Homo sapiens: one gene and its partners. The protein of the gene in region 1 interacts with the protein of each later gene in a pairwise test. Each region holds a gene or a part of one and is shown in the gene's direction. Other genes may lie near its edges. The genes, in order: CYBRD1, TMEM65 and VAPA.

The links.
Region 2: the proteins of CYBRD1 (region 1) and TMEM65 interact in binary tests that used the Homo sapiens proteins (3 or more experiments, as listed by UniProt).
Region 3: the proteins of CYBRD1 (region 1) and VAPA interact in binary tests that used the Homo sapiens proteins (3 or more experiments, as listed by UniProt).

The regions. Positions count from the first base shown.
Region 1 is NC_000002.12:171,525,378-171,529,130, forward strand, and holds part of CYBRD1 (plasma membrane ascorbate-dependent reductase CYBRD1), read left to right. Parts: intron 1-3,753. UniProt on the Homo sapiens protein: Plasma membrane reductase that uses cytoplasmic ascorbate as an electron donor to reduce extracellular Fe(3+) into Fe(2+).
Region 2 is NC_000008.11:124,365,956-124,369,708, reverse strand, and holds part of TMEM65 (transmembrane protein 65), read left to right. Parts: intron 1-3,753. UniProt on the Homo sapiens protein: Essential for maintaining proper cardiac intercalated disk (ICD) structure and function as well as cardiac conduction velocity in the heart.
Region 3 is NC_000018.10:9,952,002-9,955,754, forward strand, and holds part of VAPA (vesicle-associated membrane protein-associated protein A), read left to right. Parts: intron 1-2,051; coding exon 2,052-2,210; 3' UTR 2,211-3,753. UniProt on the Homo sapiens protein: Endoplasmic reticulum (ER)-anchored protein that mediates the formation of contact sites between the ER and endosomes via interaction with FFAT motif-containing proteins such as STARD3 or WDR44.

The DNA.
Region 1 (3,753 bases):
AAATGTTTTCATACATGTAGGCACATGTATAGTTCTCCCCAGTTCTTCCATATCTTGGCCAACCCATCCACATTCCTCACCCTAAGTATTAGGAAGGCTCCAGTGGAAGGAGGGGGAGTAATAAATAAACTTTATAGGCTGCGAGGGACCCACATGTTACAGACTCGCCATGTTATAACAGACTTTTTTACCGTGTGTGATTGCTGCAAGGAGGAAAATTTTAGGCTATGAGATTTCAAATCTCTAACAAAGAACACGATGTATTGGAGTTCTTCTCTTCTGTAATACACAAATATTTGGAGATGAAGAAGAGAAGGCTAAAGTACAGTTATTACTCTAAGTATAAAATGCTTTAGAAATGCAATATACAAATAGTAAACAATATTTGAAACTAAGAACAAGTATGAGTCCTTTGAAACACCTTTAAGAAGTAGGCTCTGGGCCGGCACAGTCCAGCTACTTGGGAGGCTGAGGCAGGAGAATTGCTTGAACTCGGGAAACGGAGGTTGCGGTGAGTCGAGATCTTGCCATTGCACTTCAGCCTGGGCAACAAGAGCGAAACTCCCGTCTAAAAAAAAAAAAAAAAAAAAAAAAAGAAGTAGGCTCTGGCCGGGCACGGTGGCTTACGCCTATAATCCCAGCACTTTGGGAGGCTGAGGCGAGTGGATCCCCTGAGGTCAGGAGTTCGAGACCAGCCTGGCCAACATGGTGAAACACTGTCTCTACTAAAAATACGAAAATTAGCTGGGCGTGGTGGCAGGCACCTGTAATCCCAGGTACTCAGGAGTCTGAGACAGGAGAATTGCTTGAACCTGGGAGGTGGAGGTTGCAGTGAGCCAAGATTGTGCCACTGCACTGTAGCCTGGGCAACAGAGTGAGATTCTGTCTCGAAAAAAAAAGAGGGATAAACTCCAAAGAAGCAAAGCTAACATAGAAGTTACAAAACAAATCTCCCTCTCCTTCTTTATTCCCCTTTCCCTTTCTCGCTCACCCTCTCTCTCCTTGTCCCATTTTCTCCTCTGTGTCCCTCTCCCTTCCTTTCCCCCTCTCTCTCCCCTCCTTTCCCCCTCTCTCTCCCCACCTCCCATACTCCAAGTATATTTTGGAATATGTATATATTCTAAATTAAAGTATAACAGATCATGGGAAATCTAAAACTAAAATAAAATTTTAAACTAGTGGGAAATCTAGCTAACAGACTCTAACATGAATGAGGAAGGGTTTAGAAGAGGCTTTGTGCTTCTCTGAAAGAAATGTTTCCCATGAAATAAGTATACTACTAGGAAATCAGAGAAACGAACCTTGAAAAGAGGGCCACAGAAAAGACTGAAACAAATAAACGCTGTCAAAGTGGCTGTTGACCTTTTAAAAGGTTCAGCAAGGTGGAATGTGTTCTTTAGTGAAAGGTAGAAAATTCGGGTGTCTACATTTAGCGAAAAGAAGTCTTGGCAATTCTATATTCCTTCCTTTCCTGTGTAGAACTCCTTTTATTGTATAAACTGAAGGGAGAGAAATTAAATAGTCTAATGATCTCAAGTTGATTTCGTGAGATAATATAACTACCTTTAAGTAACATTTAAAAGACTAACAGAAATTAAGAGCAGTTCTTAAAAAACAGTTGGGATATCCTATTAATTTATCTAAAAGTGACCAAATTCCAAGATTACTTAAATAGACTTGAAAAGGCTCTTGGGGTAAAATCCAGCAAGTAAGATAACGGAGAAAGTGTCCCAAATACCTACTCTAAAAGAAGCTTCAGGGACACCATTGATAATAAATCCTATCAATATTAGCGATACAAGGGTTTTTACAAAGCGTAAAGAGATGATTTAAAGCAATTTTGTGACCAAAACCACAAAAAATATCCCCAACATATTTTTTGTTGTAAATAAATACACATAGATTTTTAAATAATGCAACCAATAAAAATGTTTTAGATATGACTGTGGTGCTCAGTGCTATATCCCCAGTACCTAGAATAACACTGAGAACTGGCACATGGTAGACGAGTAAGTGGTTGTTGAATGAATGAGTGATTATTTCTGTACCATCATTGAATTGTTAGTAACAAAATGCAGTTTACAGCCACTTACTTGTGACGATAACAATAGTGTCTAAAGTAAACACACCCTCGCTTTTCCCTAGTGATTCTCCTGTTCAGCCAGTTTAAAAGCACTGGCTTAGTCAACCTCCAGGAAGAATGGACATCATATTGCACTGGAAACGCATCTTTATTCTGAGGCCTCTAGCTGATGAGAATGTTGCTGCTTAAGTACAATCTGTACCTCCTCTTCCCTTCATCCCAGTTCTCCCTCCTTTTTCTGCATCATTAAGTTTCTCCCCCAACTGGCTTATTTCCAACATGTTATAATTTCTATCATCTTCGAAAACAAAACAAAGCAAAACAAAACAAAATCACTCTTGACCCTGTATATCCCTCAGCTACTGCCTCAGTTCTCTGCTTGCCTTACTATGAACTTTTGAAATTTTTGTCCATACCTGCAGTTTCTAGTTCCTTTCTTCCTGTTCTTTCTCGAGCCGGTTCCAATTAGGTTTTCATCTCCTGCTCCACCAAAATTGTGCTTAATATGGTAGCTAATGACTACCATGTCACTAATTCCATTGGTCAATTCTCAGTCCTAATAGTGTTTGAGTGGAAGGCAGCATTTGACATAATTGACCCCTCACTCCTCCTTGGGGCACTTTATTTTATTTTATTTTTTTTGAGATGGAGTTTTGCTCTTGTTGCCCAGGCTGGAGTGCAATGGTGTGATTTGAGCTCACCGCAAACTCTGCCTCCCGGGTTCAAGCGATTCTCCTGCCTCAGCCTCCAGAGTAGCTGGGATTACAGGTATGCACCACGATGCCCAGCTAATTTTGTATTTTTAGTAGAGATGGGGTTTCTCCACGTTGGTCAGGCTGGTCTTGAACTCCCGACCTCAGGTGATCTACCCGCCTCAGCCTCCCAAAGTGCTGGGATTAGAAGTGTGAGCCACCACGTCTGGCCGGGACACTTTCTTTACTTGGCTTCTCTTTCTTCACCTGGTAAGTTGGGTGGCTTCCAGGACACCTGATTCTCATGGCTCTTCTCTCTTTCCTGGCTGCCCCATCCTCAGTCTCCTTTGCTGGTTCTTCCTCATCTTCCTGATGACGGCAGGTTAGAGTGCTCAAGCCTCAGTCTTCTGACCACTTCTTTTTTTCTACACTCACTTCTTTGGTGGTCAATCTTATCCAGTCTCTTCTTCGCTTTAAGTACTATCTATACACTGAACCCTCTCAAATTTGTATATTCAGCCCAGACTCTTCCCTGAACTCCAAATCCAAATATCTGTTTGCCTACTCAAACTCTCTACTTGAATATCAGATAGGCATGTCCAAATCTCAGCTCTTGATCTTCCTCATGCCTGCAAAACCAACTCCTCCCATAGGTTCCACCATCTCAGTAAATGGCAACTTTATCCTTGTAGTCGTTCAGGACGAAATTATGCAGTCATCTGTGATTCTTCTCTTCCATACTTCTCAGCCATTTCACTAGAAAATCTTATAGACTCTGAATTCAAAATACAGTATTATCTAAATTCTGATCACTGACTATTAATTTATTGTCTGTCTTCTCCTACTAGAATATAAACTCCCAGAAGGAAGGGATTTTGTCTGTTTTCTTCAATGCTGTATCCATAGCATTACCCAACACATAATAAACATTCAATGAATATTTACTAAATTGATGGAAGTTTGGCCAGTTCTTTAAAC
Region 2 (3,753 bases), on another chromosome or scaffold:
TTATTATGTTGGGAATGCGTACAGCTCATTCCATTGCTGAAATCAACAATTTTTTTCCAGCCAGATAAATGAAAAACTCCCATGTTTTCTTTTATTGTTGCTTTTTGAATAATGTTTTGAAGTACTCAACCGATGTATTGTGTGTGTGTACTAAGTGTACTTTCTAACAAAATTAATTCTATTTAAAGGGCTATTTCTTGCCATAGGCAATCTTGTGTGTCTTTGGAAAGGGTGCTTGTATAAACTAATGAAGTGTTTTGGATTTGGTATGGAAATGTTACTGAAAAAATATCATCCATGCTTTGATATGGCAGTGGAATCTGCTGTTGAAATTTGGCACATTTGCCCTTATCTTTCTTATATGTTTATCAGTAGGCATGTGATATAATCTGTGATGAGATAAAGCTTTGGAATCAGTTCGTAATAGATAAGGCAGACCTTGTGGGATATCTTATCATAGTTAAATAGAATATTGTGATTTTTAAAATTACAAACCAATTTCTTTCCCAATTTAAAAAAAAGTTGAGTTTGCGCCTTCAATTTACCTGCTCAGCCTGATCTCTCTTCTTCCAGAAACAGACCATATTCTGCTGATAGAGCATTATTCATGTTTTTACAAGTAGTACTGGCAAGCTGACATTATTACAGTGGCCTTTCAATGTTAGCCAAAATTTTTAAAACAAATTTTCTTCCCAATTTTTGTAATTAATATTTCCATTTATAATTATTTTTTAAAGCTTTTAAAATATAGCAATTTGGTATTGAAAAATAGACAGTGCTCATTGTATTAGTTATCCATTGCGGTATAACAAATTATCCTAAAACACAGTGGCTTAAAACAAGCATGTATTAACTCATAATTTCTGAGGCTCAGGAATGCTATAGCATCTTAGTTGAGTATTTCTGGCCCAGGATCTTAAGAAGTTGAAATCAAGCTCTCAGCTGGGGTGGCATCATCTGAAGTCTTAACTGGGGCTGGAGGATCCATTTCCAAGAAGTCTCACTCACATGGCTGTTGGCTGGATGTCTCAATTCCCTCCCATGTGGTCCTCCACAGGGCTGCCTGAGTATTCTCATGACATGGCAGTGGGTTTCCTCTAGAGCAAGTGATGAGAGAGCGAGAGAGCAAGAGAGAGCGAGTGTGTTTGCAAGACAGCACCTGTGGGCACCTAAGCTGGAAGCCACAGACTTTTATAACACAGTCTTAGTAGTGACAGTCCATCTCTTTTGTCCTGACACATTGTGGGAGAGTACTACAGAAGGTGTGAATACAAGGGAGTGGGAATCATCGGGGGTACATCTTTGAGGCTGGCTTCCACACTTATTTAAGGTGGTGTAATTAATGCTCATCAGAGAGTTACACAGAGAGACAAGAACTGGCTATTGGAGAGGTAAAATGAGAGATATGTTTTGAAAAAAGGAGCCTCTTAGGGAATATTTTTGTTATAATATGTATACTATAAGCCACAGACTTTTAAAACGCAGTCTTCGAAGTGACAGTCCATCTCTTTTGTCCTGACACATTGTGGGAGAGTACTACACAAGGTGTGAATACAAGGGAGTGGGAATCATCGGGGGTACATCTTTGAGGTTGGCTTCCACATTATTTAAGGTGGTGTAATTAATGCTCATCAGAGAGTTTACACAGAGAGACAAGAACTGGCTATTGGAGAGGTACAATGAGAGATATGTTTTGAAAAAGGGAGCCTCTTAGGGAATATTTTTGTTATAATATGTATACTTAAGATATTTAAAAAATGAGATTGTTTTTACATATAGCAAATAAAAGATGTATTGAGGTGAACAGAGCAGTTTTTCTATCAATGTTAGGTCTCAATTAGCTTGCATTTTTTGATTACTCTATGTGAGTGGTAATTGTGTGCTTTTGACATTTTTTACCATTTATCTACGTCTGTATACATTAACCAAATAATTCTAAACTTTAATCTTGTAGTCCCCCATTTTTTGTGATTGTTTAAGGTAGGGTGAAGAGCTTTGTTTTGAGAACTTGCCATATAGTATAAGAGGACGTTGACAAAATGAAAGACTGAAAGATAAAGAGCTTATACTAAATTGAGTATCTAAAACACTTAAAAATAAATTAGGCTTTCTTATGGAATCCCTGTTCACTAGAGATCTTGGACCTTTAACAAGATTATCCTTATTTTTTTTCAGCCCATTGCTCAGGATTATGTGAGAAAATAGAAATTCTTTTCTTAAATTTTTTTTATTTTTTGAGACAGAGTCTCACTCTGTTGCCCAGGGTGGAGTGCAGTGGTGCGATCTCAGCTCAGTGCAACTCCATCTCCCAGGTTCAAGCGATTCTCCTGCCTCAGCCTCCTGAGAAGCTGGGATTACAGACATGCACCACTGTGATTGGCTAAGTTTTGTATTTTTAGTAGAGGTGGGGTTTCACCATGTTGGCCAGGTTCATCTCGAACTCCTGACCTCAGGTGATCCACCGAGCTTAGCCTTCCAAAGTGCCGGGATTACAGCTGTGAGCACCGTGCCTAGCCTAAATATAAATTATTTTAAGCTATGAGCCTCTGGAATGGATTGGGAATAGTTTGCTTTTGTCCAATAAGAAAAAGGGCAAGAAAAACATTTTATACTGCAAATAAAGATACGTGAATAAAGATATTTCAGTGCCTTTGTTGAGATAGTAAAAAGGAATAAGGGAAGTATAGCCCCACCTAGGCCCGGCAAGAGGGGAAGAACAAGGACGTGGATAAGAAGTATGAATTGAGGCAAGAGGAGTGAGAGATCTCTGATGAGCCATGGGCTTCTATAAGTTGAGTTACACTCAGTTAAATGAAGCTTTGCTACAATCAGTTATTTTACCAATATGGAAAGAACCTAATTACAGTAGTATATTTCAGCAAGCTTAATTCTGAGTTCTTTAGAGTTACGGGGTATGTTGGAATGGTCTTATTACTAGGGATTACTGCCAGTAGAAGACAGATAATCAAGTAATCAAGTAAAGTTTTTTTTTTTCCATTATGAAAGGCATATATGCTGTTTAACAGTGTTTAATCATCACTTACATATAACATGTCCAGAGTTACGTGTGACTTCAAATAACAACCCTTCTATCATAGCTCATGATTTTGTGGATCAAGAATATAGGCAGTTGCAGGTACAGAGTTCATAGGAAATAAAAAAATAAAATTGAAAAAAAAAGGATATAGGCAGGGCTCAGCTGGATGCTGTTTCTTATGGTATCTATGGAGGTCATTACATAAACTTTGGCTGGCTGATGGTCTGGTCAGAAGGTCCAACATCGGTTTGTTTATGTGTCTGGTACTTTGGTGGATGGCTGGAGGGCTGGCCTCAACTGGAACTGTTGACCCAAGGAGATGGATGTGGCCTCACCAGCATGACAATGTTAGCATGGTTGTAATACTTAGGTCAGGGATCCCAGAGAAAATGTTCCAAGGGGGCTGGGTAGAAGCTGTAAGACTTTGTATTAGTTTTCTTTCTCTTTTTTGAGACGGAGTCTCGTGCTGTCACTCAGTCTGGAGTGCAGTGGTGTGATCTTGGCTCACTGCAACCTCTGCCTCCCGGGTTCAAGCGATTCTCCTGCTTCAGCCTCCCTGAGTAGCTGAGACTACAGGCACACACCACCACACTTGGCTAATTTTTGTATTTTTAGTAGAGGTGGGGTTTTGCCAGGTTGGCCAGGCTGGTCTGGAACTCCTGACCTCAAGCAATCCTCCTGCCTCGGCCTCCCAAAGTGCTGAGATTACAGGCGTG
Region 3 (3,753 bases), on another chromosome or scaffold:
CATCTGCCATGACTTCCATAGTTCTGTTCTTTGATAAAGATGTGCTCCTTAGGGTGCTCAATAGATTTCTTTCAAAAGCCACTGTTTACCTCTGGCAGGGAGGGGAGAAGTGGAAACAGTGAGAATGACATAGATGGGGCAGGGCTGGAAAATAGGAAGAGTGAACCAGGGAAGTAGGTGAGAGAGACTTTATTCCTGGTTTCTACTCTTTTTATGCTAGTGTTCTGTATGAGATTTTATTTGAGAGATGATTCTGCTGCTGGAAAAGTAAAACAAAAAAGCTGGGCTGGGCGGGTGGCTCACACCGGTAATCCCAGCACTTTGGGAGGCTGAGGCGTGTGGATCACCTGAGGTCAGGAGTTCCAGACCAGCCTGGCCAACGTGGTGAAACCCCGTCTCTATTAAAAATACAAAAATTATCCGGGTGTGGTGGTGGGTGCCTGTAATCCCAGCTACTTGGGAGGCTGAGGCAGGAGAATCACTTGAACCCAGGAGGCAGAGGTTGCAGTGAGCGAGATCACGCCATTGTACTCCAGCCTGGGTGACGAGCAAAACATCGTCTCAAAAAAAAAAAAAAAACAAAACCCTTGAAGACCCACTGGCTTACAGAATTTCAGACCCTATACACAGGCCCACCATAATTTTTTGCCAGGTTCACTTTCTTGCTCCTGTCTGTTCACTATCCCTTTTAATTCCCCTAGCCCTGTGGTTCTTAATTCACACTGCATGTGAATCACCTAGTGAGCTTTAAAAAGTTACAGTTGACCAGGCTTGCCCCAGACCTAATGAGTCACAATCACAGGAGTATTAAAAGTTCTGTAGATGTTTGTGATGTGTAGCTGAAACTGAGAATTACTGTTTATATAGGACTAATTAGCATGAGACCAAAAAAACCCAACTCCAGAAAATCCAGTAATGCAAATAAAACTGTGCCATTAGGTGTACTCTTTTAGTTAGTGTTTATTTATAAGCACAATAAAGGAATCATGGGAGAAAATATTGCCTTGTACTGAAAAAAGTAAAAAACTGTCCTGCCATTTATCAGATTGGTTAACAGACAGAGATAAAGACAACTGTGTAGTTAACAGGTATTAGTATTTTTCCCAAGGTTCACATTGCACACAGTGTCATAACAACCTCCTGCTTGGAGTGACTTCTGCTTTCTTCTGAGAAACCTTCTGCTCTAAAGACATAGTGCTGTGTGAAGCCATATCAGCAAGAATGAAGCAGCCTACTCTTGACTGGAGGATCTAAGTCATTTTGACACAGAGAAGCACCCTCATTTTCCAGTCCAGGTGCAGAGCTTCAGATAAGGGTTTCCTATGTACATTTCTCATCTAAATTTGTAGTTTCTGAAGAAACAGTATTCTTTCTCTGCTTTGCAGTCGAGACCTGGTGCTACCACTTTACACACAGCCCTCTGCTTTGCTTTGAGCATATAAAAACACTGTTACTTAAATTTCACGCTAAACTGTTTCCTTCCCCCAAATTCTGTGATACCATATCTCTGTTTACGGCAAGAACACCCTTTTGTGCCTCTGCTGTTCCGGTTCCTTAGTTGCAGTGTGTCAGTAAACCCAAATGGCAGACTACAGGTCTGGGTAGTTTTTGGCTGATTGGGCTAGGACGGATGTAACTGATTTTAAATACCATGGGCCACCTTGGAAGTACTCTTCTTTAATTATATTTTTAGTGGGATTTAAAAAAAGGTAAATATAGCCTATCTAACTTTTGCTTTTTAGGAATACATTTCTCAGCTCCAGTTTTAAAAAATCAGTGTTATTGAGGTATAATTTATATCCCATGGAGACACCCACTGTGAGTGTACAATTCATTGATACATAGAACTTTGTAACCATCACTATAGTTCAGTTTTAGAATGTCTATCACCCCCGGAAAGTTTCCTTATGTGGTTAGCAGTTAATCCCCTTTTCCGTCCCCAGCCATAGGCAACCACTAATCTACTTTCCGTCCCTATAGATTTTTAGCTCCAGTAGTCTCGTTAGTATGCTTGTTTTTAAAAACCTTTTGTGTGTGTGTTTTTTTTCTAGGATGAAGGTTTAAGGCTCAGAAAGGTAGCACATTCGGATAAACCTGGATCAACCTCAACTGCATCCTTCAGAGATAATGTCACCAGTCCTCTTCCTTCACTTCTTGTTGTAATTGCAGCCATTTTCATTGGATTCTTTCTAGGGAAATTCATCTTGTAGAGTGAAGCATGCAGAGTGCTGTTTCTTTTTTTTTTTTTCTCTTGACCAGAAAAAGATTTGTTTACCTACCATTTCATTGGTAGTATGGCCCACGGTGACCATTTTTTTGTGTGTACAGCGTCATATAGGCTTTGCCTTTAATGATCTCTTACGGTTAGAAAACACAATAAAAACAAACTGTTCGGCTACTGGACAGGTTGTATATTACCAGATCATCACTAGCAGATGTCAGTTGCACATTGAGTCCTTTATGAAATTCATAAATAAAGAATTGTTCTTTCTTTGTGGTTTTAATAAGAGTTCAAGAATTGTTCAGAGTCTTGTAAATGTTATTTTAATAATCCCTTTAAATTTTATCTGTTGCTGTTACCTCTTGAAATATGATTTATTTAGATTGCTAATCCCACTCATTCAGGAAATGCCAAGAGGTATTCCTTGGGGAAATGGTGCCTCTTACAGTGTAAATTTTTCCTCCTTTACCTTTGCTAATATCATGGCAGAATTTTTCTTATCCCTTGTGAGGCAGTTGTTGACTGAGTTTTTCATCCTTACAATCCTGTCCCATGGTATTTAACATAAAAAAAAATAAAACTGTTAACAGATTCTTGCTCGATAGCTTGTTTGTGTCTGTCGTGTTATTAGAGGGAACTCCACTATATATGGTCACTTGAAATTATGATGCAAAGGTTTCTCTTGCATTGAAACCCTCTTGGATATTACAGTATTTTTAATTGAAAGTCCTAATTCTGTTAAGGAAAGGAGTTGATTAAATTTTAAGGTACCACTGGTATTTTGGGAGATTATAATCAGTTTGTTTTCAAGATAATAGAAAATAAGGTCCATGAGAATAGAAGTTATGTGATTTCAGTGAGTTGATGTGTACAGCATGGCTGTGCTCCATCTGATTTACCCCATTCTTAAGTTCTGAGAGTATGTTCTCAAGGAAGATTTAACTCTCTTTGGTTTTAAATTACTTTTTAACCAGCCTAATAAATAAGTCTTACTACTTTTCATAATATTTCATAATAGTTAAAAGTAGGTGTTTTTTTCGTGCTCAATTTGGCACTCAAAATAATGTTCATTATGGAAGTTTGGTAATACTGAGCAAGCCTGTGGAATTTTCTTTATGAAAAATGATTTTAGCCTTTGCAAATGTTAACCATGTGAAACACATTTTCAGTATAAGTATGCGTTACAGGGTTTGATACTTTCCTGCACTTAGGTTTGTCCTATTCTTCATTTATTCATACTAGGATAGAAAATTTTGGAATCAGAAAATAGATCCAGTGTTTAGCTACATACAATCTAGTACAAGTGAATTTTTATTCTTAAACATAGGTGTGTTGGCTCTTTTTTTAAAAGATGCGCTCTACCTGAAAAGGAAATTGGATTTTAGAACTGGATGTGGTGCAGTGAAGTATTTTAGGCCCAGGTCTGTGTACACATTTTATAGAAGAATGAAGTACTCTGAAGTATTTTGGTTGCCTTTTCATTTCAACTGTGTTTTGAATTTGTCAGATCACACATATATTGTGTTATTGGG